Linked DNA regions of Homo sapiens. The protein of the gene in region 3 interacts with the protein of the main gene of each other region in a pairwise test. Each region holds a gene or a part of one and is shown on either strand. Other genes may lie near its edges.

Region 1 (3,500 bases), on a different chromosome or scaffold from region 3:
ATCTAAGGATAACTGTAAGCATGTGATATCCTGGTAAATATAGGAAATAATTGCAGAAGAAAGAGTGGTCAGATATAACGCAGTGGCTAAGAAATAAGAGGAATAAAAATAAATAATTCTTTTCACAATTAGAAACTCATTAATTATAGCAAGATTTGGGTAAAAACACATGGTGGATAGGCAAAGCAATCATCATTTTGGACTCGATAGACTAAGTTGGAAAGCAAATATCAACCCTTTTACAGCATGATGCAGTGGGGAAATTATCCAGAATCCATATCTACCATTTTACCTCTTTCATATCTTCATAGTACAAAAAAAGTATTGGGTGTTCTTCCTTTTTCTTCCACCAGTTTTTAACATGAGTAAACCAGGAACCATAGGCCACTAAAACCAGATAAAAGTCTATTTTCATAAACATTCATCAAATTAAATATTTCTGTCTGAATAGTAAATCAAATTGTGAAAACATTTTGAATTTAGTAACCAAAGGAAGTAAGAATATGAGGACAATCTTAAAAAGTAAAATTAGCTATTTATGGATATATAAACATCAGATATTTTTTAATGTCAAGTACAAAGAAAGCATTTCAGACAAAAATACACTGACCTCCAAAAAGTTATACTTAGTCTCATAAAGAAGAAAACTATTATCTTACAAAGTACTCATATCAACTATTTACCTAAGTACTATAAATATGACATATGCATTAACAGATCTAACTAATTGCTTAAGCAAGTTAAACAATGTCTATTGTGAGGAGAGACTGATAATGGACTTCTAGCAACTGAGAACAGATTATAGAATACTTTTGTATGCCAATGATTAATACTAGTTTTATAAATTGAAGGTCATAGTAAAAATATTAGATGCATTAGATTTAGTTTTTTAGATAATATTTGAACATACTTTTCACTAGATTGGAAAAATAAGTATTTTGAAAGTCATAAAAGTTATTGTTAATAGTATTATTAAAATAAAAAATACTTATCAATTTTAAGATAAAGTCCACATACCTTTTCCAGTTAAGAATTTCTCCAGATATTCTTCCCAGGTACCAGGAAAAGGCTGTAAATTATTCATTAAGTCAAAATGGTAATATGAGACTGAAACATCCTTGGCATTACGAGCCAGATAAATCATCTGCAGTGGGGGGTGGGGGTAGGAGAAAAAAATAAGATAAAAGACATTTTGTTTAGGAAAAAATTAACCTATACGCATGTAAAAAAGCAGAGTACTTTTTCAAATAGAAATTGTGGGCCAGGGAGGCCCTTCTATTAACAGCTAAAATATAGAATCAATTCAAGTGATTTTCAATACAGCAATGCATTTTTGAGATTAGAACCATCGAGCTATAGACGTTTTGAAAAAAAGATTTCAGTTTCTGGCCACTTGACACTGTGAAGCATTAATAGACCACTGTGGCTTCTGGAAGATCTGCAAGGTCCTAGAACACACATTATCAAGAAAATGACACTGTGACTAAAGAGAATACCAGCAAATTGAAAATAACAAAATTGTGGGAAAAAAATAAAAGTTTTCACTTTTCACTTCTACCAGTGAAATACCGAGAAAAATATTAGGTGCTGATAAAAATATATAGAAAGGAAAAGAAGGTAAAGATATTAAAAGGCATTAAAATAAGTTTGGGGGCATCCAGTTCAGAAACTAGAAGGTATAGACTCACTATTTTCTACTTCGCTACTCTTTTTTTTTTTTTTTTGAGACGCCCTGTCGCCCAGGCTGGAGTGCAGTGGTGCGATCTCAGCTCACTGCAAGCTCCGCCTCCCAGGTTCAGGCCATCCTCCTGCCTCAGCCTCCGGAGTAGCTGTGACTACAGGCGCCCGCCACCACGCCTGGCTAATTTTTTGTATTTTTAGTAGAGACGGGGTTTCACCATGTTAGCCAGGATGGTCTCGATCTCCTGAGCTCATGATCCGCCCTCCTCGGCCTCCCAAAGTGCTGGGATTACAGGCATGAACCATCGTGCCCGGCCTTTTGTATTCTTAATGTCACTAAAGCCCTGGAAATTATTCAACTTACAATGATACAAGAACTCCAAAAGCATACTGGACAAAGAGCTGAGTAATGCCAATGTGGTGAGTTCCTCCTAGGTGTCCTTTTTATCTCCTATATACTCTTGGATTGGGCAGCAAAAAGGACTGTGACCTGGAACCATTTACAGGCATACACGAAACAAAAAAATATCTAGAAAAACCTGCTCTCCCTGGTCAAAGGATTAGGAAAGAGGAAGCCCAACAGAGACATAGTGGAGAATTCCAAACTCTGCTCCACACCCGGGTCTCTGTAGGTGAGCTAACTCACTGCCAGTAATGGCAATGAAGTACTGGGACATTCAAACTCCTGCGATATAAACGGGGCTTTATAAGCAGTCCCACCCATTCACAGTGATGACATCAGAGAAGCCCTGTTTCTCCCAGGCCCGAAGGCTTCTCTCCAATTTTCAAAAAGTCAGCTAACAAGAGTGGGAAGTCCAGGAAAGTACCTTATACTCCTTTTATGTGGCATCAGCAGGGATGGTACAGTATGTCCAGCAGCCCCAGAAATCAAATAAGCAAGAAAAACAAAACTGAGATGAATCAAATGTTAAGTTATCTGACAAAGATTTAAAGTAGCTATCATAAAAAAGCGTCAACATTCCATTACAAGTTGTCTTGGAGGGTGGACCAATCATCCCCCACACCTCAAAAGGAATATCAAATTTGCCAACTACCTACACACAGAAAGTACCTTCATGAGAACCAAAAATCAGGTGAGCACTCACAGTACCTAGTTTTAACTTCATATCACTAAAACAGCCACTGAAGATGATAGGAAAGACAGTCTTAGAATTGCTATTTCCATGCCTCCCCCAACCCTTAGTAGCAGCCGTGTGGCATGGTGAGAATCTGTGCACTTGGGAGAGGGAGAGCACAGCAATTATGAGACATTGCATTGAACTCAGTGCTGCCCTGTCACAGTGGAAAGCAAAACTAGACTGAACTCAGCTGACAGCCTTCCATGAAGGAAGCATATAGACCAATCCTATCTAGAGGGGAATCACACGTCCCAGTGGTAGAAATATGAGTTCCAGCAAGCCTCACCACCATAGGCTAAAGTGCTCTGCACCTGTAAATAAACTTGAAAGACAGTCTAAACCACATACTTCTAGACATGTTCTAGTGCTGAGATGGCCTCAGAGCCAGTGGACTTGGAGGGTACAAGACACACTGAGACATACAAGACTAAGGGACTGCTTGTGCCACCCTTCCCCAGACTCCAGGCTGCACAGTTGGTGGATTCAAAAGAGATCCCTACTTTCCACTTGAGCAGAGGAGAGGGAAGAGCAAAGAGGACTTCGTCTTACATCTTGGATACCAGCTCAGCGACAGTGGGATAAGGTACCAGTCTGAGTTATGAGGCTCCTATTCACACAAATATATATATACATATGGTATACCCACAAAAGTTAAAAATTGAAAAAAAATTTAAAATAAAT
Region 2 (2,398 bases), on a different chromosome or scaffold from region 3:
ACAGAGGTTGAGCTGAGACTGCACCACTACACTCCAGCCTGGGCAACAGAGCCAGACCTTGTCTGAAAAAAAAAAAGAAAAAAAAAGAAAAAGAAACTACAACCCTTGCATATTGTCAGCTACCTACCTCACAGGACAGTTACAGGAAATAATGTAAAGTTCCTTTGCGCTCTGTGAATTATACACGTTAGCTCTTGTTATTAGCAGCTATTCTCTCCCTTCACTGGGAAAGGCCTGGAATCTGATCCCTAAGAATTAGGTAGTCACAAAGCCCCATGTCACTACCCGCCCCAACTGCTTCCGCTCTTTCCCAGCTAGAAGACAGTCATCACCGTAGGAGGCAGGGTAATTAAAATCACAAGTGAACACAGGCCTCTATTTCTGTTCTTCTGAAGTCTTCTCTCCTGCATATCGAGGTACTGCGAACACAGAAAGTACCCTGCTTCAACATATCTACTCCCCTTGAAGACGCCACCACTCACAAAGGAGGCAGGACAGGAAAGGGTTCAATGTTCAGTTTCCTTTAATGACCCCCATCTCCCTGAAGGGCAGGTGCAGGCAGCTAGGTGATGGCAAGAGATGTTCACTTGAAGATCTTGCCCTGATTGAAGGCTTTGCCCACATGCTGGAAGGCCCCCTCCCAGGAAAAGTACTCTCGAACCAGCGTCTGGGTCTCCTCGCTGCCAGGATCCAGTTTCCGCCATGTGTATGACTCGTAGTCCACCTGCCAATCTGGACTCAGCTGGGGATAAAAAGCCAGCATGTGGTCAAGTTATGAGACACCACCCCACACCTGTGTTACTTCCAGCTCAAACACATGTCATCAGACCCCAGGTCTCCTGTGAACATGAACTGCTCCTTCCTATAAGCATTCCTGAACCCTCCTAAACATCCATCAACTCAGAAATAAAACACAGTGCTTCTTATATCCCTGCCCCACCCTAAAGAGACTCCTCTCCTCCACCTTCCTCACCGGAAAGGCAAGCTCCTGGCCTCGGAAGACCCAGACTCCAGAAATGGAGCTGCTATTGTTGGTTCCAAAAAGGATGACACTGGCGAAGGCATTCTTCCTCAGCTTGTCCAGTCGCTGGAACATTCCTGAAGCGGCAAGGGAGAACATTCAGCCTTTGGAATCACAGCACTTGCTACACCTTGTTCTCCTTCCTTCTCAGACCCACTCTCTTACCAGTGATGAGATTGCAGCTCATGAAGGTCTGAGTGAGTTCTTCAGGGAAGCGATACTCTGAGTACCACAGGGACCAGCCGTCCTTATCAAAGTGCTCCCAGAAATATGGCAGTGCCACAGAGAGTGTGTCCTCATTGGAGTACTTGCGCTTAAATTCATCCAACACAAAGGTACTAAGAGGAAGAAAGCACAGGGGTCAATCAATAAGGAGGAAGGTTGCCAGGCTAAGAGAAGTGAAGGGTGCTTTCACTTAAAATTTACTAATATAAAGGAAATGGTCATTGTGCTGGCAGATGTGTATGACCTTATGAGGGAAGTAAGCTCAAGGGGTTTGAACAGGGGCCTAGGACACTCCTCTGCATAAGTATGCAAGGCATGTGGAGGGTGGAACTCAAAGTGGGACTCTGAGACCTGCCCCAGGAAGGGCATGGCTAACTGCTGCCCCCAGGTGGAGACAGAGTGAGGACTTCTTTTTCCCTGTTCAGGCCCTCCCCAGGCTGTTTTCCATGAACCACACTAAGTCACTGACTCACCCAAGTCTCTTCCCCCCCACCATACAGGCCTCTTCAGGTTACACAAGCTGTAACAGGAATGTAAGCAGTGAACATTCTCAAAGGGCCTCCACCCCAAATCTTACACCCATGTCCTTTAGTCCATCTCTGCCTATAAACAAGCTTTAGTCTTTTCCAAGGTTTTCCGATGCTGGAAAGCCCTTAGGTTCAGGTTATCTTAAAAGCAATCTGGCATACTGAGCCAAGAATGCCAGCATCAATATAGCAGAGGTCACTCCCTCCACGATTGGTGCTCTGTTTTCTTTCTTTCCAGTTATAAACATATACACTGGCCAGATGCGGTGGCTCACGCCTGTAATCCCAGCACTTTGGGAGGCCAAGGCAGGTGGATCACCTCAGGTCAGGAGTTCAAGCCCAGCCTGACCAACAAGGTGAAACCCCGTTTCTACTAAAAATACAAAAATTAGCTGGGCGTGGTGGCAGGCTGAGACAGGAGAATAGCTTGAACCCGAGAGGCAGAGGTTGCAGTGAGCAGAGATCGCGCCACTGCACTCCAGCCTGGGCGATAGAGGAAGAGTCCTGTCTGGGGGGAAAAAAAAGGACAGGCAGGGTGGCTCACACCTGTAATCCCAACACTTTGGGAGGCCGAGGCGGGCGGATCACGAGGTCAAGAGATCAAGACCATCCTGGCCAACATGGT
Region 3 (3,500 bases):
CAGTGAAATCTTCCCCACCCTTCTGTGCCTTCCTTTCAAGGCACTTCTTGGTTTGTTATCAGGCATGCATCAACACACAACTAATGGCTGGCTCTCCCAAGGGCAAGGCCACAAGGAACAAGGCCAGGAGCTTACATCCCCTACCAGCCCATGAACTCAGTATCCTAGAACCAGGTGGGGCTAAGACAGACCTGTACCAGAGGGACAGCATCCTGTGTAACCAGTCCCAGTGGTGGCGGCAGGGTAGAATCCTATCCCACCTCAGAGAGCACAGGAGGAAGGTCATTCCCCTCAAGGTTAGGGTGGGAGCAGAGTCCCCTGGGGTGAAAGGTCCCCTATGGTGGGAACCAGGACCTCGGCTTTGATAACCAAGGCTGGGACCCCACTACCCAGGACTTCAGTGATTCCATCACTCACCTCCAGCTGCTGCCAGCACCATTCGAGGGGCCTTGTAATGTGTGCTGAGGTACTCGGTCAAGTCTGCACGAGACAGCTTCCTACAAGACATATGGTCAGTGTGTCAACACCTCTACCACACTGGAGTGAGTTGGGGTACATGCATGAATGGGACTGAGGAGGCAGACTAGGAGAGGCATGGTTTCTCCGAAGAGTGGGCCCTAGCACACTCCCCAACCCCCTTCCCCTGTCTCTGCCACCCACCCCTCCAGGGCCCAGAGGGCAACCCTTGTCTGCCCTTGCCTCATGCCTGACTTCAGGACAGGCTCATAGTCTTCTCTGAGAAGGCGTGAGCCAACACTGTGGGACTCTCAAAAGGGCAGCATCAAAGCTCCCGGAGCCATCCACAAAGGAGACAAGAGACCACATGGAGGGGACACCCAGACACTTCGCCCTTGGACTGTCAGGACATGCACCAAAACATACCTTAAAACAAAGCCCAAAATTCAAGTGAAGCCCACAAAGCCATTAAAAAAGACTCACTGGACCACATGGATACAGAAACTGTCTCCAGTTGCATAACTCAGGAAAATAACCCCGACAGCTAGCCAACTAAAAATGTGACCTGGAAAGGGTCTGGCCAGGCCAGAATGGAGCAAGCATCCCCCCACAAGGCCAGCCAACTCTCACCTGACATTCTCACTGGGCCCCTCCACAGCCTGGGCTAGAGGTGTGCCCTGGAATGCTGTGGCATGCAGGTAGTTAAAGACCACATCTCGCATAGATGCATCATTCTCCTGCATCTCCCGCAGGATCACATCACGTTCCTTCTCAATCTGTGAGTCTTCCAGACTACAGTTCTGCACAATGTCACCCAGGAGCTCCACAGCTAGATGCAAGGAGGACATGTTTAGGTGCCAGGTGGACCACTGCAGACCAACGACAGCACAAAATCCCCAGGCCTGGCATCTCCTGCTGCCCACCCCTAGTTGCCCAGCTGCAAAGCCATACGCTAAGGGTAATATGATTCTGTGGTCAGCCAGGGGCTCCTAGGTAGCTGTCCTCTGCTTCCCTGCCCTCTGTCCCCGCCTCTTCCTCCAGGTGTTACCTTTCGGCAGATCCTTGGACAGCGCCTTGATGTAGTAAGCTGTGTGCTCCCGGGTGCTGTAGGCATTAAGATGGGCCCCCATGCTCTCCACCTCCTTCTCCAGGGCACTGCCAGGCCGATTCTTTGTTCCCTGGAACCAGATATCAACCAGAACAATCAGGAGCTACACAGGAACCCAAGAACCCTGTCCTCAGAGGCTAAACACCCAGCAGGACCACTGGTCCACAGGTACCTCCCTCAGCATAGACTCTGGGGACACAGATCCCAGAGTCTGTTTACCAAGCACTAAGCAGGCCTTGAGGTGACCAAAACCATGGCATCATGCGCCAACAGAACAGAGATAGCCAGGGCCAGGACTGAAGGGCATGGCCAGAGCAAGTGTTGCCTAAAGCTCCTGTAACAGCTTACCAACAAGCTGTGGGGATCATTACCAGTACACCTCCCCCCTCCTTATTGACAGCCATGGTCAGGTAAGCCCACACCTGTGTTCAAGTGATAGAACCCACTCCTCCCATGCCATTCCCATGACTGTATGTTTGTGAATACATGCTAGTGGCCTCTGTGGGACCCAATCCTAGTCCTGTGTGTGGAGAACAGTGGTGCTATCTCTTGGTGTGCACACACACGTTAATTCTGCACACATACCTGTGACATTGCAGCTGGCTAGGTTGCCTACTATGGCTCCATGGCCCTGCCCACCCCATAATCCTTCTCCATGTTTTTCATTCCTTTAAAAAACATGGGTCTTTACAACCAAGGGATGCCTAGATATTCCACCAGAGAAGAACATTTCATAAGCAAGCATGCATGCCCATGTCTGTGGGTTTGTTAAAATGCATGTGCATATCTACGTGTGTTCCACAGGCCTGGCTTCTCTGGTGAAAAGTGGGGCTCCTATGGTTCCTTGGGTCCTCTTGGCTCTGAGGGCCTCAGGCAGGGGCTCATCAGATACGTGCCCACTCAGGAGAGGTTAAGCTCATGTGGCTCCTTTTAGGAAAGCCAGCCAGACATCAGCCCCGCAACTGAGGCCCATAATCAGGCTAATTTTTCTGACCTTCATCCTCAGGAGGGACAACAGGCAGCCCTAAGCCCAGAGGAGACAGACTTTAAGAGCCTCACCTTGAAAGCCAGATGCTCCAAAAAGTAGCCTGCCCCATTATTCTTCTCAGTCTCAAAACGGCTGCCAACATCAATCCACACTCCCACCTGGTCAAGAAGCCACCAGAAAAGGTTACAAACAAACCACTCCCCAGCCCCCTACTCACACCCCACCTGAGTGACTCAGTACAAGCCCCAGGCAGGGACTTATGAATCCTGGAGTCAGGGAGAGCTGCCCCAGCAGGACCCCTGTGCTTGGGGACACAGTCATGCTTGGAAAACAGGGGCAGCCGAATGACTCGTCACACCACATCATTGCTCTCCTGATTGGCTATCAAGGACCCACAGGGACACTTCTAACTGTGCACATTTACCTGGTCTCACCAGCATACAAATCCTTAAATTCACTCTCAATTTTCAGTTAATTATTTGTTTTTGTCTAAGCATACAACATATCATTTGCAAATAACAACTTATTTTTTCCTTTCTAAAAATTACACGCTGCCTTTGTTCTGGCAATGATTTTATCCTTTCATCATTAAGGAAGGGACTATTGGTTTAGACTGTATATTTTATCACACTAAATATTGTTCCTATAATATCTTTTTTGTTGTTGTTTTTAATCAGCTCTGAACACCAAACAGTGTTGCCTTGGCACCCAATAAGGTAATATTAATTTTCTTGACAGCCTCCTGGTTGCTGTGAAACACGCACCACAGGCTGGGCGCGGTGGCTTATACCTGTAATCCCAGCACTTTGGGAGGCCAAGGCAGGTGGATTACGAGGTCAGCAGTTCGAGACCAGCCTGGCCAATATAGTGAAACCCTGTCTCTACTAAAAATACAAAAATTAGCCAGGTGTGGTGGCACGTGCCTGTAGTCCTAGCTACTTGGGAGGC
Region 4 (4,060 bases), on a different chromosome or scaffold from region 3:
ACACTATAATCTATGCAAACTTTCCCGAAGCTGCGAAAAAAAAAAAGTGAAAAAAAACCATATTTCTGTGAGTTTTTAGGTATCAAGTCCATGATCACCTAGTTATCCAATTTAAGTCTCAAATAGTTTTTCAACAAAAGCCAGCTTTCCCTGCCTTTACTGTGTATAATTTTTACTAAAATTATCTGAGATTTTCATGCAAATGCCTATGTAATCTCAGCCTTTCACCACCCCAAGTCTAGAAAGAGGCTCAGAAATGAGCGATCGGGAGTCAGGCTGAACTCCCAAATCTGTGACTTCCAAATTCCTCGGCTCCACCAGAGCTTCCAGAGCGTTTCTAAACTGAACAGTCTCCCCAACAACCAAGCGGAGAGCTGCGGGAGGACGCGAAGCAGTGACCATAGGAACTGGGCTCAAACCTAACCTCCCAAGAAACAGGGGCAACTCGTGCTGCCGAGCTTCCGGCCGGCAGCTGTGCCCGCCGCTGCCCCTCACAGCCGCTCCCGCTGCTAGCGCCCAACTCCGCCCGCCACGGCCCCGCACCCGCCACTCCTGCCCGCTTGCAGCCGCCTTCTCAGAGACCTTCCAGTCCAGTAGCAGCACTCTCCCCACCCCGCGCACCTCCGCAGCTTCTACCTGGAGCTCCGGGTCCCTCCCCGGGCTCCTCGGCCCGCCGTCCTGCCCAGAGCTCATCCCCGCGACTGTCAGCTCTCGGCCTCAGCGGGGGATACAAGAACCGCCCACTCTCCATCCTCCGCCCCTTTCTCCTCCCTTCCCACCCCCAAATCGTCCTGGCCCCGCCCCGGCGGATCGGAGGAAGGACGGAGCCCGCGGGAAGGAGGAGGGGGCGGTTAGCGCCAGCCAGTGCCGCCGTGGCCCCGCCCTCACGCTCTGTACCGGAGTGGGGCTCGTCTTCCACCTCCCCGGCGCCCCAGCTTTGCTTCCGTCCCGCTCGCCCCCAGGCCCGGTGCGCACGCGTACCTGGCTCGACCTTCCTTCTCGCGGGGTCTACAAGCCGTGCGCGCGCTCCTACGCACGGAGCGACGCGTACGTCTACCTGCCTGCCTTACAGGGCACCTAGGAGGGACCCCTTCCTGGCCCATCCGCGCCGCGCAGGCGCACGCCCACGCAGCGCCTAGACGCCCGAGCCGAGCGTCCCGTCTCCTAGTAACCAGCCGCTAGCCCCCTTTTCCACGACTCATTTCTTAATCTCTGCCTGAGGCTGCCGCACCTGGATGGAACGCGCATGCGCAAGGCTGTCTCTCGCAGCCCCGCCTTCCCTCAGCTTGAAACACCTGCTGCTTCGCGGCGGTGGCTTTGTGCCACTTTTCCCAGGGCTTGGGCATCATTCTGGACCCATGTTCGGTGAACCGGTTACTCTCAGAGCTGCTTTCGGGCGCAGCTCCTGCTGCAGCCAGGGCCCGTTTTAAGAGAGGCTTCCAGGTCCAGCCCTCCCGCTGCAGCCTGCAGGGAGCGAGCCGGCCTGTCCCGGTGAGCGTGGGCAGCCTGGAGTCAGGGGAGCCTGGGGACCACGGCCTTGGTCAGCTCTGCACGATCAGGGCTGAATCAGGAAGTGGCAGATCTAGCAACAAAGTCCAGATTCCTGACCGATATTCCTTCTCCACATGCCAGTCCTTTTCCAAATCCCCTCACCTTAAAGTGACAAATGAGCTTTTTAGTGAAAAAGAATGAGCGCTGCATTCTTCTACCAATTTTTTGGAGCCCAGAATGGGGGGGAAAAAAGTCTTCTTAATTTTTCTTAATACCTACCATGTCCCTTCTTAAATAACTCAAGAGCTTCTGGATGATAATGGTGACTTTATCTCCTTTTCCTGCAGATGACATAGACACTAGGTTTTTACAGCAATTCTCTGATGACCTTGATATGGTAGAACGCTGTGTATTTCAAGAGTAAGCTCTCGTTTGAGGAGACTAACAATTCCTGTTTTCGCCAGGTGAGTACTCATTTTTCCCCCCACAAGATATCATTGGCAGGGATAAACAACTTTTGTGTAGAACAAATTTAGTCATAAAAATACATTTAATATAAATGCCATGTTTTTCCAATGTCTTTTCATCGTGTTATTACATGGTCTCATATTTTGTCGCATTTATTTTCAGATATCATATACTTTGTAAGTATAATTAGATACCAAAAAAAATTAAGTGTCCCTGTTATTTTAGATTAAGAGGTTAGAGGACACAAGGAGCACATATCCTCGGAAATGTAATTTTTTAAATGCACAAAATAACAAACTGAGAAGTTATGTTAGAGGGAATAATGTATAATCTCATTTCCTCTTCAGATACTAAGATTATTTTGAATACATTATCTAGCATTATTAAAAACAAATAGGAAAGAATGTTCTAAGTTTAAAACTATCAGCTGGAGTTGAAGACTTCGGGGGTGGGGAGATTATTAATATAGGAAGTAGGAAAGTACTTCCCTTATAGAAAGAATAAGAAAAGTTTAAGCACTTATGTATGCCACCTAGACGGTACTGAAGATTATTTGGAAAGAATATAAGGAAATGATCATTTTAAGGCCAAAAGAGGGTGAAAAGATTTTCCTTTTTTTTCCTATCAAGAACTGTTGACTTTCTCCCCTAACCTGAGAAAGTAAAAATTTCCTTCCCTCTGTGGAAACCCAAGGGGTAGTGAGTGTCCCACCCTGCCCCAACTAAACCTTTTTTTTTTTTTTTTTTTTTTTTTTGAGACAGAGTCTCACTCTGTCGCCCAGGCTGGAGTGCAGTGGCACGATCTCGGCTCACTGCAACCTCCGCCTCCCGGGTTCATGCCATTCTCCTGCCTCAGCCTCCCAAGTAGCTAGGACTACAGGCGCCCACTACTACGCCCAGCTTTTTTTTTGTTTGTTTTTTGTTTTTTGTATTTTTAGTAGAGACAGGGTTTCACTGTGTTAGCCAGGATGGTCTTGATCTCCTGACCTCATGATCCACCCGCCTCAGCCTCCCAAAGTGCTGGGATTACAGGTGTGAGCCACTGCGCCCAGACTTTTTTTTTTTTTCCTTTTTTTTAAGACAGAGTCTCACTCTGTTGCCCTGTACCCAGGCTGGAGTGCGTTGGCATGATCTCAGCTCACTGCACCCTCCACCTTTCAGGTTGAAGCAGTTCTCCTGCCTTAGCCCCTTGAGTAGCTGGGACCACAGGTATGTGCCACCATGCCCAGCTAATTTTTGTATGTTTTTGTAGAGATGCGGTTTCACCATGTTGCCCAGGCTGGTCTTGAACTCCTGGACTCAAGTGATCCACCCACCTCAGCATCCCAAGTGCTGGGATTATATGCATGAGCCACTGTGCCTGGCCCAGGCTAAGCCTTATATAGTACCCTGTGCTTGCTCTCTCGTGACAGACACCTTCTAAGGTCTTGGTTTTCTAGTCCCTTAATTTTTCCATCATTTCAAAAGCTTCACTACAAAAACCTCTGTTATTACTATTTTTTGTTTTGTTTTCACTGTCCTCTTCCTGATCCCCTCAAAAAAAAATCTGGGACTCCAATTCCATATGTGTTAAGCCACTTGATCTTGTTCCACAGCTCACTGATGCTGTGTTCCTTTTTTTTGTTTGTTTTTTTGAGATGGAGTCTCGCTTTGTCTCCCAGGCTGGAGTGCAGTGGCGCGATCTCCGCTCACTGGAAGCTCTGCCTCGCGGCTTCACGCCATTCTCCTGCCTCAGCCTCCCGAGCAGCTGGGACTACAGGCGCCCACCACCACGCCCGGCTAATTTTTTTGTATTTTTAGTAGAGACGGGGTTTCACTGTGTTAGCCAGGATGATCTCGATCTCCTGACCTCATGACCTGCCCGCCTCGGCCTCCCAAAGTGCTGGGATTACAGGCATGAGCCACCGCGCCCGGCCTGTGTTCCGTTTTTTAAATCAGAGAGTTTCCTCCTTATGCCGAGGCCTGAAAGTTCCAGGCAATGTCCATTCATAGGGCTCACTTTATTTCCTGTTTCTCAAGGATCACTCTCCCGAACTGCCTGTTGTCCAATATCTAAAAGCCATTGCTTCATGTGTTTTGTGTTTTGATGCTGAAAGCAGGCG
Region 5 (3,500 bases), on a different chromosome or scaffold from region 3:
ACACACACACACACACACACACACACACACACACACTTAATGCCTGAAATCTTACAGCTCTGTTATGAAAAACATGAGAGTTTCCCTGCCCCCAAGTTTGATGACAATGCTAAAAATACACAAGACATTACAAATAATGAGTTGTGAAGATAAATCTTTTTTTGGTCCATTTATTCTCTCATTGAGAATTATATTACTGGTCAAATGAAGAGGTTATTAAAGAATATGCCCCTTACCCCTCAAATAAAACATATAAGAAAAATAGTATTTAGGAGTGTCAGCTATTTGTTTTTATAGATTTGGTGATGTTTGTGGCATTTTCTAGCTTTTAAAATTCTACTTGTTTTTATTCATTTTATCACTTTAAGAAAATGTTCACCTTTGTGTTTACTCTTGTATTTTCATTTGCAATTTCATACTATTTTTCTTAAGGAATATCACTGAAGTTATAAAAGCTTCAGGTTCCATAAAACCAGGATCTGTCCCAAATTCCTGTACCCTGATTAAGGAGGTAATCACTCTCTATGCTTTTCTTCATGCATAGCAGCTTGTTAGTGACAGAAAACCCAATTTGGTTTTCCTCTGCTGGGAAAGGGGACAGAGACCAAGTTTTCCTTGCAATACTACCAGGTCCTGCTGAAGAGAACAGATTTCTTTAGCGCTAATTCAGACCTTATCTTGCAAACTGGCAGCTGTACCTGGTAATATTAGGAAGACTCTGAGTTCTGGTGAGAGAGCGTGAGTTTCTCTCCTGGAGAGATGTCAGCATGTCGGGGTAGCTGAATGTGTGTGTGTGCCTGCTCTAATGATTTCAGTTGAACAGGAAGTGTGCCTTCTCAGCCTCTGATTTCCTCCCTCTGACAAAAAAGCCCATATAAGGTAAAGACTGGCTGTGTCCTGTGAGAGGGGAACTACTCTGCTGCTAACTAAGCCAACTGTTCTAGACTTGTGCTTTGTCTGTCTCACAAGAGTCCAATTTTTTCATTTGGTAACTATTTTTTTTTTCCACTAAAAACTTGCCTTTGAAGGCCCCAATCTCCTGGCTCCGTGCTTCTCCTCTCATATCCCCTCTGATGCCCATTTCCTCCACAATAACCCCCTTCCCAGTCTCTCTCCTCCTCAAGCCCTAAGTCTCAGGGAAAGGCTTGACCCTTAGTTACAATAAGGTGAAAGAAAATAACATCTTAATTTGTACGCCTTTAGTAGGAGACGTTGTTTATTTAACAAGAATCAGAGTTTCAAGCTAAAACAATTCAATCTATAGCAGTGGAATTTCTAGTATAATTCCGGATTGCTTCTCACCTTCCAGTAAGTTTTGTAGTGGATAGAAGATCAATACTTTGATGTTTAGACTGTATAAACCTTATAACTTCAGAAGCACACAATTTGTTTCTTAATATTTCCATCAGCAGTCTTTATTGCATAAATAACAATTCTCTTACTATCATGTGGAGACAAAAATCTGTAAATATATCAAATGTGTATGCCTGCACTCTCTTCAATTAAATAGAGATAAAGATTGGGCTTTTCATGAAACATGGTAAATACTGTGCACTCTAAGAGCAATGATTTGTTAACTGGTCCTAGCATATATATCTCTCTGATTCACCAGTTTTCTTCTGTTGGAACAGGAGACAGAGACCAAGTTTTCTTTGTGATATCTTAGGCCCCCTTTGAACAGTACAGATGTGTCTACATACCAGTAAGGTCCATGGTGATTGGTCCCGGGGCACTCTCACAAACCAGGGTGAGCCGGGTGACAACGACATTGGGGGCTTTCGGATCTGCAGGATCGAAAGGGAATGTAAGTACCAAGAAGAGACATGTGTATAGTGGGTGTGTGCATTTCAAGTGGGAGACAGAGAGTATGAAAATAAAAGTGATCTTTCTATCTGGAGTAGAAATAGAAATGGATGTGGCAGGTTTGCTATGCTTGGTCTTGATGGCCTTGTAAATTACAGCAAAGTTATTTCTGCTTTAGGCACTTGTAGGTCCATCTAATTATTGACATCCAACATTTCCTGAATGGCTATGGGTCAGGTACTCTGCTAATTGGGCACTGTCCATTTATATCTCTGGGCCATGTCTTGTTCTGCCGCGGTGTATGTGGAAGAGATGAACGGTTAGGTAAGGACTGAGAAAGAGAGAAAATGGAGAGAGAGAAATACAATTCTAAGTGGTAGCCTGGAATTCTTTCTAAATCCCCTCTGTGTGTTATGTGTGCCTATCTCACTGCTGACTTGCATCTTATCTCTTAAGAAGACTTAATTATACAGTTCATAACTTTAATCAGCATATATAAATTGTGCCTCGCTCACTTTTTCCTGGAAGCAGTTGGTCCTCTTCCCTTTGCTGCTGCTCCTGAGCAGCCAAAATGTCTTCTTCCCTCTCAGCGATCTTCCACCCACCCTGTTCTCTGTACACACATACCTGTCACCACAGGACCATCTCCCAGCAGCGTTTTCTTGTACTTAATTAGACTCTCATCATCTTTGTCCATTTCCTGCAGCTCTTTCAGGGACTTCTGTGGTGGAGGCTTATAATTGAGCTTGCTGTCCAGCTCATCATCGTCATCCTCCTCCACATGTGGCTCTGGGGCTTTTTCAGTCATTCTGATCTATTTCTGGGAGACAGAATGACAGCCCGTTAGTCAACAAGTCATGAATATAAAAGATGTTAGTGGGGCTGCTGTTAGCAGCCTCCTTACCCTCATGGACTTCTCTGATCATCAGTCACTTTCCTGATTGTTTTCCTAATTCAATCTCATTAAATTCTATGAAATAATAATCTAATGTATTCTAGTAATTTCTCTGACCTGCCTGAATTTCTCTGTACCATTGTAGTATCTTCTATTCACTGAACAAAACTGACAAGAAAGAAATCACTCATATGTGAATAACGTACTACGAGTGAAGCAACATGGCACAAAGACTCCTGAACAAATGAAGCAAAAGCCCAGTCAAAAAGCTGTAGGAGTTATCACAGTCCTCCAAATCCAGCCAGCCTGGCTAGCGTCAAAGCTTGCAGCATGCACAGTCTGAGTGATAATGGTGGAGAGAGGCAGGAGAGAGAAGAGAGAGGTGGAGTACTTGCCAGAGAAATGGTTGGCTCCTCCCCATCAATGGAATCTGTCCCTGAACTCCAGCAATGCCTCAAAGATGACTCATGACGAACCGTTGACCTTTATGATACCTGCCTCAGGTGCCTGCATGGTTCACACCCAACACTGCTAATCACCCCTCAAGGGTGGGTACTAGGTTTGCTGTTTTTCTTGAATTCCCCCTAAAACACTTGCATAGTTCTGGCACTTTATACAATTTCCTTGATTGATATATAAGGTTTTATATCTAAAGATATTCTATTCTTTTTAAATGCCACAAAAATAGCAAAGGACAGTTTAAATTCCTCCAGACAAAATCGTAAGTACAAATTTGCCCTTAGCATTTGTCCATCCATTTCCCTTTTCTGGATCCACTTCCCTTTCAGTCTCTCCCCTTCTC
Region 6 (3,796 bases), about 89 Mb from region 3:
TAAAAAGGCAGAATACCTGATTCCCCCAGTCTTCTCCCATGCTTTGAACTTAAACATCCAATGCAGGACGGGGTGTTCAGCGCGCAACTGGTTCCCAGGAGACTCGGTGCTTCTCCCTGCTCCTTCAGCGTTTGGTTTTTTAAAAAGTAAACTCACCCAGATCTCAGCGGTCTGGGTCGGCCTTTGACTTAGTTCATTCATTCCTTGAAGTGGCCTGACCCTTTTGGGAAGAATGGGAGGAGAGAGTGAAGTCCCAGGGAACGATACCTTTGTCTAGCCTCTAAAGGCAAAAAGCAATCTCCAGGGCGCATTCCGGACGGATCCGAAGCTCTAGGCCCTTCTACACCCAACCCGCAGACCACCAAGCTGGGCCAACGGGGGGCAGCCACCAGCCATCACTGCTTAAAGTCGCTCTATGCACTTTCAGCCTCCCCGCACCCGACTTTCCAGTCCCTCCAACCTGGCTCCTGACTTCAGATTTTAGGCACATCAAAGGTTACTTTTTTACAATGACAGATTGTCTTTATTCAAAACGTCTTTGTTCAACAAATGAACAGAGCAACGAGGTAAAATCCTTCTAGGTACATTTCCAAGACATCGTCAAAACATTTATGACCATTTAGGTTGTTTTTGTTCTTTTAATTTTTTGTTCACCTTCTACTTCCTGACTTCATAACCCGACATTCTGTCTAAAAGTAAACTTAGATCTCTAGAAGCACTGCTTTACACAAAGTAAATAACCATGTAGGTCCTTTTTGTTTTCCCTTTAAAGAAGCAAACACTATCATAGCATGGTTTTAAATAGAAATGTTTCCCTTTCTGTAATTTAAAACTTTGAAGCCTTTCCCCCCCATACATGAAGAGCAAATGGCTCCTAGTTGTGTCTGATGGCAAAACACAGAGACACAGCTAACTCTTTTCTTCAGGGGACAAAAGGAAAAAATATATGCATATTGTAGATATAATATCAGAATCTGGGAGTTCAGAGTCCAAAGCCTATCCGAGGAGAGTGAAGGGGATATAAATAAAGCAAAACTGCCTACTTTTTTGTCCAAAGGGGGTACAGTCGGAGATTTGTTTTGGGAGAGTCGGGATAGGGGCAGCTGTGTAGCTGACATAACGTTTGCAAGTTTCCGGTACCTGTCTGCGCCTTGGGTCCGGGAGGACGCCCCACCCTTCCCCCTGGAAGAGAGAGGAAAAGTCTGGGTGGTGTAAGGGACAGCGGCAGGGCTGACCCCGGAGGCGTCTGCAGGCCGGGGCTAGGCTCAGAGGACAGGGTGCAGACCCGGCTTTCAGACCACGCCTCAGGTCCGGGCCGGGCTGGGGGTTACATGGCCGTAGCGTGGGCTGACGAATAAGGGTCTATGCCAGTCTTGGTCATGCCTGGGAAGAGGATGTAGGCGACGGGGGGCTGCAGGGTGGAGGCAGACCAGGCGGTACAGTTACAGGGCACCACGTAGCCAGGGTTGGTGGGGGACGGGTGCGTGTGCGTGTGCTGGCTGGGGCAGCTGAGGCTGCCGAAGGCGCCGTTCTGGTAGCCCAGGGTGGACGCGTAGGGCAGAGCGCCGGTAGCCAAGGTGTGGGGCACTTCGCCCATCTTCTGGATGGCGCTCGAGCTAAACTGCGCGGGGTCCAGCAGGGAGTAGGGCGCCGAGGCCGGCGGCAAGAAGGCCCGGGCTTTCTCGGGCGCGCTCAGGAGGCCGTCGGAGGCCCCCACGGGCAGGCCAGCCGCCTTGAGCGGGTCCGTGTCGCCCAGGTAGGGCAAGGGGAAGACATACCTGTCCTTCTTGAGCAGGTTCTTGGGCTTGCGCCGAGGTCGGTACTTGTAGTCAGGGTGCTCCTTCATGTGCTGGGCGCGTAGCCGCTTGGCTTCATCGATGTATGGCCGCTTCTCTGCCTCGGACAGAAGCTTCCATTCGGCACCTAGGCGTTTGCTGATCTCCGAGTTGTGCATCTTGGGGTTTTCCTGGGCCATCTTGCGCCGCTGGCCCCGGGACCATACCATGAAGGCGTTCATGGGCCGCTTGATGTGGTCTGAAGGTTTGGACATGGTCCCGGCGGCTAGGTGGGTGGGGGTAGGGAGTGCAAGGGTTCTGCAGACGAGCCTGGGCGCGGCTGGCCGTCTGTCTGTCCGTCCTGAGCCGGGGTTCTGCGCTCCCCTCGCCTTGGCGCCGCTGAGGGGAAGCCAGAGAGAAGCGCTGACCCCACAAAGTTCAGCTGATCATGCCAGTCCCAGCGCCCAGGCAGCCCCGGGGGAGCGAGTGGGGGCAGAAAGGGCGGGGGAGGAGAGGGCGATCGGCCGGGGGGCTTCAGGCACCAGGGGCTGGGACCCAAGTATCGGAGTCTCCGGGATTAAGTGGCCAGGTAATTTTTTAGCCAGGGCAAGAAGCTCCTCCTTCTCCCCCTCTCCACCTTTGCCTTCTCTAGTTCCCTTCTCTCCTCTTGCGTTTCCAGTCGTGGCTCCCCCTTCCCGTGGCTTTCCCGGAGCTGCCGCGCCTAGCGCTGCACCTGGCTGAGAATGCGGGGAGGCTGGTGAACGAGAGCCAAAAGCGGCGAAGTTCAAAGGCGAGGTGGGCCGGGACTGCACGCACTCTGACATAAGCGCGGGGCGGCGACTCCCCAACCTGGGCGCCAATCAGCAGCAGAGAAGCCGAGGGGGCGCACCTGCCAACACGCCGGTGCAAGAAACAGAGAGCGCGACTGGTGGGGGCGGGGAGAGGTGTGAGGGACAGAGGCAGAGAGAGGGCTAGAGCAGAGAGGCTAGCTCTAGACTGGGGACTTCGGTTCCACATTGTCTCGGGCACTGTCAACAAATAAAACTCTTCCGCGTCTCCTGTTTCCTTTCCCGGTTGTGAAAGAGAATTAGGGCTTGAAATACAAAGGCCGGGGAAGGGACAGCAAAGGGAGCGAGGCGAGAGCTTGTGTTGATAAATAGGACAGCTTTGCCGCGAAATGCAAGGACAGCACTTTGCCCTCTTGTCAAATATCCTTGGAAGAGAAAAATAACATATAGCAGGCTCAGGGTAAAAGCGAAATAAACTTTTCGCGCCCCACCCTCGGCGGTGCTTTGGCAGTGTTCTCCCGGGAAGCCCCTGCAACTAGGCATCCACCCCTGCCCCAGGATGCGGCGCCCGGGCGTAGCGCTGGGACCCTGGGTGGCTGAGCAATGTTGTCTGACCTGCTCCTGGAAGGCCTCGCGTCAGGCAATGCAGAGATTTCGAACCCTAGTTGGTGAGCCCTTAAAAGCACTACGACCTGTTCTTCACTTTTGGGGCAGGGATGGGGCTGAGATTTCTATTGCAGTTCCCATTTATGTTATTATTATTTAGTGTCTTTAAACCTCCAACTTTTACTCCACAAATGTTCATACCGTAAGAAGAGCCTAGAGGCTGGGTATGGGGCTCTTCCCGGTGCCCCTTCTGCAGCGGCCCTACAGCGGAGTCTCACGGTGTATCGCAACCAGGGTCGGTTTGTCCCTGGGCGCCTCTTCCCACCCAGGGAGGCTGCGAGACTCGTTTCTTGCGTCAAATGAGCATTCTTCGGGTAAAGAGGACGAAATAACCCGCAGAGCCAACCTGCGCGCCTGTTTCCTTTGAATAATTGCCTGCCCGATGTGAAATGCCCTTGGGGGAAATATTTATTAAATGGAAACCATTGTCCCAGGCCCGGCGGGACCTGCGTGTGTTCCAGGCTTATTGGCTTTTGCACCATTCTCTCTTGGGAGGACCGGCCAGAAACGCGCAAGGCTCCGTTGGCTCCGAGGGGCTAGGAGTGGGGGAGGGTGACAGGGAATGAG
Region 7 (3,500 bases), on a different chromosome or scaffold from region 3:
TGTGAATGTGGCAGCTGCTGCTAGATGCTGACAGGTGCAGGGGCAGGGCTGAGCCGGCGCCTCCGGGTGGCAGCCGTGTGTGTGTGTGTGTGTGTGTGTGTGTGTGTGTGTGTGTGTGTGTGATTGTTATTGCTGGCTCCTCTGGGTGGCAGCCATGTGTGTGTGTGTGTGTGTGTGTGTGTGTGTGTGTGTGAGATTGTTATTGCCGGCATCTCTGGGTGGCAGCTGTGTGTGTGTGTGAGTGTCTGTGTTTGATTGTTATTGTTCTGTGAGAGAGTCCTGGAGGTATAGTGCTCTGAGCTGAGGTGAGTTGTCACATCCATAGCAATCAGGATTCTTTGGATGCAAACCACAGCGATGGACTCTGGCCAACTTTGTGAAGAAGGAATTAATTAGAAGGTTATGGTGGCAGGTAGATCACAGTGTCAGAGGAAGAACTGGAGAAATAAGCTCAAAAAAGACCGGGATTGAGCTATTCAGAGAGTTCCAGTACCAGGCACACATAAGCAGCTTCTCAAACTGAAACTGGGTTTGGTTAGGAAGGATGCTGAGTAGCATAAAACAGAACCAAGCCATCTGACTGCTCTTGTCGTAGAGATCGCGTATTCCTCCTTTCCTGTCAGCTGGTTTAAAAACCTGGGGCAAAGGGGGACCCTGCAGTCCACCCCACTCTTCCTGAGATGCCCTGCGGGGGTTGCAGAGATAGATCAAACACAGGCTGTCTCTCCCCAGGGACCAACAGTCCAGTAGGTGATAGCGGCAACACTGACTATGGCCAGGCAGGCTGCTGAAGGTGGTCTCTGCAACCCGAGTCAGCATGGCAGCCCTGACGGTGTTTTGGTGTGAGCAGCTCGCAGATGCAGCCCAGTTGTTTTGCTTTCTGGGCTGCTTCTTGAGGGTCACCTCAAGTCTGCACACAAGGGTAGAGCTGCAAGCTCTGGAGGGAAATAGCACTGGGTTATAATTTCCACTGGAGGACATCTATAATTTCATGTCTCTGAGTGTGAGTTTGGCCACAGGCTCCTCTGTAGGTGTCTGCACGGGAACCAGTGAGGACCCTCAGGCTTGAGCCCCCATTCTGCTGGATCTGGTGGTCTGGAAGGCTGGGCATAGTGTGACTGCCTCAGCCCCTCCATTTGTGCTAGGGCTGGGGGAGAAGGAGGATGGGGTGGGGAGTTCTCTGACTTTGCACGGTGGGAGTACACCCTTCTTGGAGGATATGAGTGCAAATGGATGTCAAGGAGCCCAGAGCTCTTCAGAGCAAAGAGCTGGGCAAATTCCTGGCTCCCACTCTAACTCTCTCTCCTTATTCTCCCATACCTCCCTCGGCAGGGTTGAATTTCACAATTGGGTCTGACCTGGCTTAGTGTGAATGAAAAGTGGTCGTTTACAGGAATCCTCTCTGTCTCGCTGAATTCCTGCCCCTCAGTCTTTTCCTCACGATTGAAATATACCCAGCCCTTCTTTTCCACTAGGACTTTGCCTGTGCCATCTTACCATCCCTGATTGGTGAACTCGTATTCATCCATCAACACCCAGAGATAATATCACCTCCTCAATGGGACATTCCTCAGGCACCCCAGGCAGTCCATGGTCCATCCCTGATCTTGAAGCATTTCTCCCAAACCACTCAAGTGGGCTTGTCTCCATCCCAGGTCCTGTTACGAAGAGGTGTTTTTCTCTCTCATTGCATGTGGAGCAATACTTCCATGCTATTCATCCTGTTATCACAGAATAAAAGAACGACTGTCTCCCCTAAGAGATATGGTGTGGGTCCCTGTGGCTAGACCATGTGATCTTACCCATAAACAGTCCTCACAAACACTCTCGATTTACGTCTAACCCACTCTTGTCACTGCCTGGCATTCGCGTGTGCCGTTCTTTCTGCCCTCTCTTTTCTTTGTATCTGTCTGCCCTTTGGAGGCCTCCTGCCTCTTCCAGGAGGGTCTCTCTGATTATTCTGGTGCCCAGAATTAGAAAGTATATGGGGTACATGCTGTGGTGTGTGGTAAGTGTTTAACAGCTGGTTCTCAGCATGTAGCTGCAACATGGATTTTGGGTGATATTTTCATTTACAATAAAGTGTAAGATGAAAGTGGAACAATGAACATATGTCAGAACTTCACTTGTTTGTCAGTGATCTAAATAACTTCTTTCCTAAATCACATAATAGTTTCGGAATACTAGAAGAATAGTCCCTCAGCTTTTTGTGAGCTATTCACAATATAACAGCTATCGACAAGACAAAAATTTCAGTTTAATCTGCATTATTGACAATTTTTTTCCATTACTTTCTTAAGTCCAGACAATGAACAAAACAAGAAATCAAGCCTTGATTTATAGCATTTCCATAAATAATCCCATTCTGGCTGATTCCCTGATTTCTGGCCACTCACGATATCCCTGGATGTGGCATGAGGAGGAGTGGACCGTGGCAAGCCCCCGCACCGGCAGGTGGAGCAGCGTCCACAGCGTAGGCAATGGGAATGTGTAGTAGAATGACTAGGAAATGATGGGTTCTGAGTATGTATTGCCTGTGTTTTTAATATAACTTCTTTGACTGTAAGTTTGTATAGTTTAGTTTTGAATAATGTCTGAGTTAAAACAGCTAACTTGAAACATTCCTGATCATCTCACAAGCCACTGTGAGCTGGCTCCAGCACACCACTGGCTGCATACCAAGAAAATCAAGTTGCAGGCAGAGACGAAAACCTTCAGACAGAATTGCGTGGCTGTGTCCACTCAGTTTCGTCAGGGGGTGAGCTTTATTAAGTGCCACAGTAACAGATACTGTCATTGGTTCAGTCAACAACTGTTTCTAACCCCATCTCACTTGGCTTTCCTGCACTGCAGAGGTTGGGAAGCTAAATCCATGTTTCCCAGACTCTTTTGCAGCCAGGGTGCAGGCCTTTGACACAGATCCTCACAAGCAGCCAGATACATCACCCAGCCCCGGATGTGCAGTCGAGTCCCATGAGCTGAAGTCTTTGGCATGCAGGTGATATCTGTCACTCACGGTGGCAGGGACATCTGGACTTGTGGGGTGGCTGTGGTGGACTTTGTAGGAGTTTGGTCCCTTGTGATTGGTGCTGGTACCAGCAGTTTCTACTAGACAGTGCCAGGGCATGGTTAGGCTTTTTTTTCTGGCTACCCTGACCCTTGGAGAGCTCCCAAGCTTGGTCTCTGGCTCTCACAGGGATTTAATGAGCTGCATGATAGCCTTTAATAAGTTCCTTTCTGTTTAAACTACCCAGGTAGAGGCTGCTGTCTGCAGGTGGGAAGCCCTGATTGCTGGAACCTAAGGGATGTGAGAAATCACTGTGGAGTGTCAAGGTAACCAGGGATCTGCTCCTGGGACCTATTAATCCACCTCTTTTAGAAGGAGTCCACAGTCCTGTTTGTATTTGAATATTCATGAACATTAGAAGAGCAACTTAGTCTGGGTATGGCTATGGCTGACAGAAGTATCATGCTGTGTCACAGCTGATTATTAGATCTGC

What was found.
Region 1: the proteins of UQCRC1 (region 3) and SULT1B1 interact in binary tests that used the Homo sapiens proteins (3 or more experiments, as listed by UniProt).
Region 2: the proteins of UQCRC1 (region 3) and EEF1G interact in binary tests that used the Homo sapiens proteins (3 or more experiments, as listed by UniProt).
Region 4: the proteins of UQCRC1 (region 3) and C2orf15 interact in binary tests that used the Homo sapiens proteins (3 or more experiments, as listed by UniProt).
Region 5: the proteins of UQCRC1 (region 3) and ARHGDIB interact in binary tests that used the Homo sapiens proteins (3 or more experiments, as listed by UniProt).
Region 6: the proteins of UQCRC1 (region 3) and SOX14 interact in binary tests that used the Homo sapiens proteins (3 or more experiments, as listed by UniProt).
Region 7: the proteins of UQCRC1 (region 3) and ZNF488 interact in binary tests that used the Homo sapiens proteins (3 or more experiments, as listed by UniProt).

What each region holds. Positions count from the first base shown.
Region 1 is NC_000004.12:69,733,121-69,736,620, forward strand, and holds part of SULT1B1 (sulfotransferase 1B1), read right to left. Parts: intron 1,145-3,500; coding exon 1,018-1,144; intron 388-1,017; coding exon 293-387; intron 1-292. UniProt on the Homo sapiens protein: Sulfotransferase that utilizes 3'-phospho-5'-adenylyl sulfate (PAPS) as sulfonate donor to catalyze the sulfate conjugation of dopamine, small phenols such as 1-naphthol and p-nitrophenol and thyroid hormones, including 3,3'-diiodothyronine, triidothyronine (T3) and reverse triiodothyronine (rT3).
Region 2 is NC_000011.10:62,559,096-62,561,493, forward strand, and holds the end of EEF1G (elongation factor 1-gamma), read right to left. Parts: intron 1,360-2,398; coding exon 1,187-1,359; intron 1,099-1,186; coding exon 974-1,098; intron 743-973; coding exon 584-742; 3' UTR 501-583; downstream 1-500. UniProt on the Homo sapiens protein: Probably plays a role in anchoring the complex to other cellular components.
Region 3 is NC_000003.12:48,603,147-48,606,646, forward strand, and holds part of UQCRC1 (cytochrome b-c1 complex subunit 1, mitochondrial precursor), read right to left. Parts: intron 2,711-3,500; coding exon 2,624-2,710; intron 2,005-2,623; exon of another isoform or gene 1,774-2,004; intron 1,635-1,773; coding exon 1,505-1,634; intron 1,286-1,504; coding exon 1,087-1,285; intron 498-1,086; coding exon 418-497; intron 1-417. UniProt on the Homo sapiens protein: Component of the ubiquinol-cytochrome c oxidoreductase, a multisubunit transmembrane complex that is part of the mitochondrial electron transport chain which drives oxidative phosphorylation.
Region 4 is NC_000002.12:99,140,447-99,144,506, forward strand, and holds the start of C2orf15 (uncharacterized protein C2orf15), read left to right. Parts: upstream 1-1,260; 5' UTR 1,261-1,491; intron 1,492-1,838; 5' UTR 1,839-1,955; intron 1,956-4,060. Other genes in the region: TSGA10 (testis-specific gene 10 protein), read right to left, coding at 622-693.
Region 5 is NC_000012.12:14,948,102-14,951,601, forward strand, and holds part of ARHGDIB (rho GDP-dissociation inhibitor 2), read right to left. Parts: intron 3,051-3,500; exon of another isoform or gene 2,816-3,050; intron 2,624-2,815; 5' UTR 2,612-2,623; coding exon 2,431-2,611; intron 1,785-2,430; coding exon 1,701-1,784; intron 796-1,700; exon of another isoform or gene 699-795; intron 1-698. UniProt on the Homo sapiens protein: Regulates the GDP/GTP exchange reaction of the Rho proteins by inhibiting the dissociation of GDP from them, and the subsequent binding of GTP to them. Regulates reorganization of the actin cytoskeleton mediated by Rho family members.
Region 6 is NC_000003.12:137,763,039-137,766,834, reverse strand, and holds SOX14 (transcription factor SOX-14), read right to left. Parts: upstream 2,521-3,796; 5' UTR 2,051-2,520; coding exon 1,328-2,050; 3' UTR 501-1,327; downstream 1-500. UniProt on the Homo sapiens protein: Acts as a negative regulator of transcription.
Region 7 is NC_000010.11:47,374,294-47,377,793, reverse strand, and holds part of ZNF488 (zinc finger protein 488), read left to right. Parts: intron 1-3,254; exon of another isoform or gene 3,255-3,333; intron 3,334-3,500. UniProt on the Homo sapiens protein: Transcriptional repressor. Plays a role in oligodendrocyte differentiation, together with OLIG2. Mediates Notch signaling-activated formation of oligodendrocyte precursors.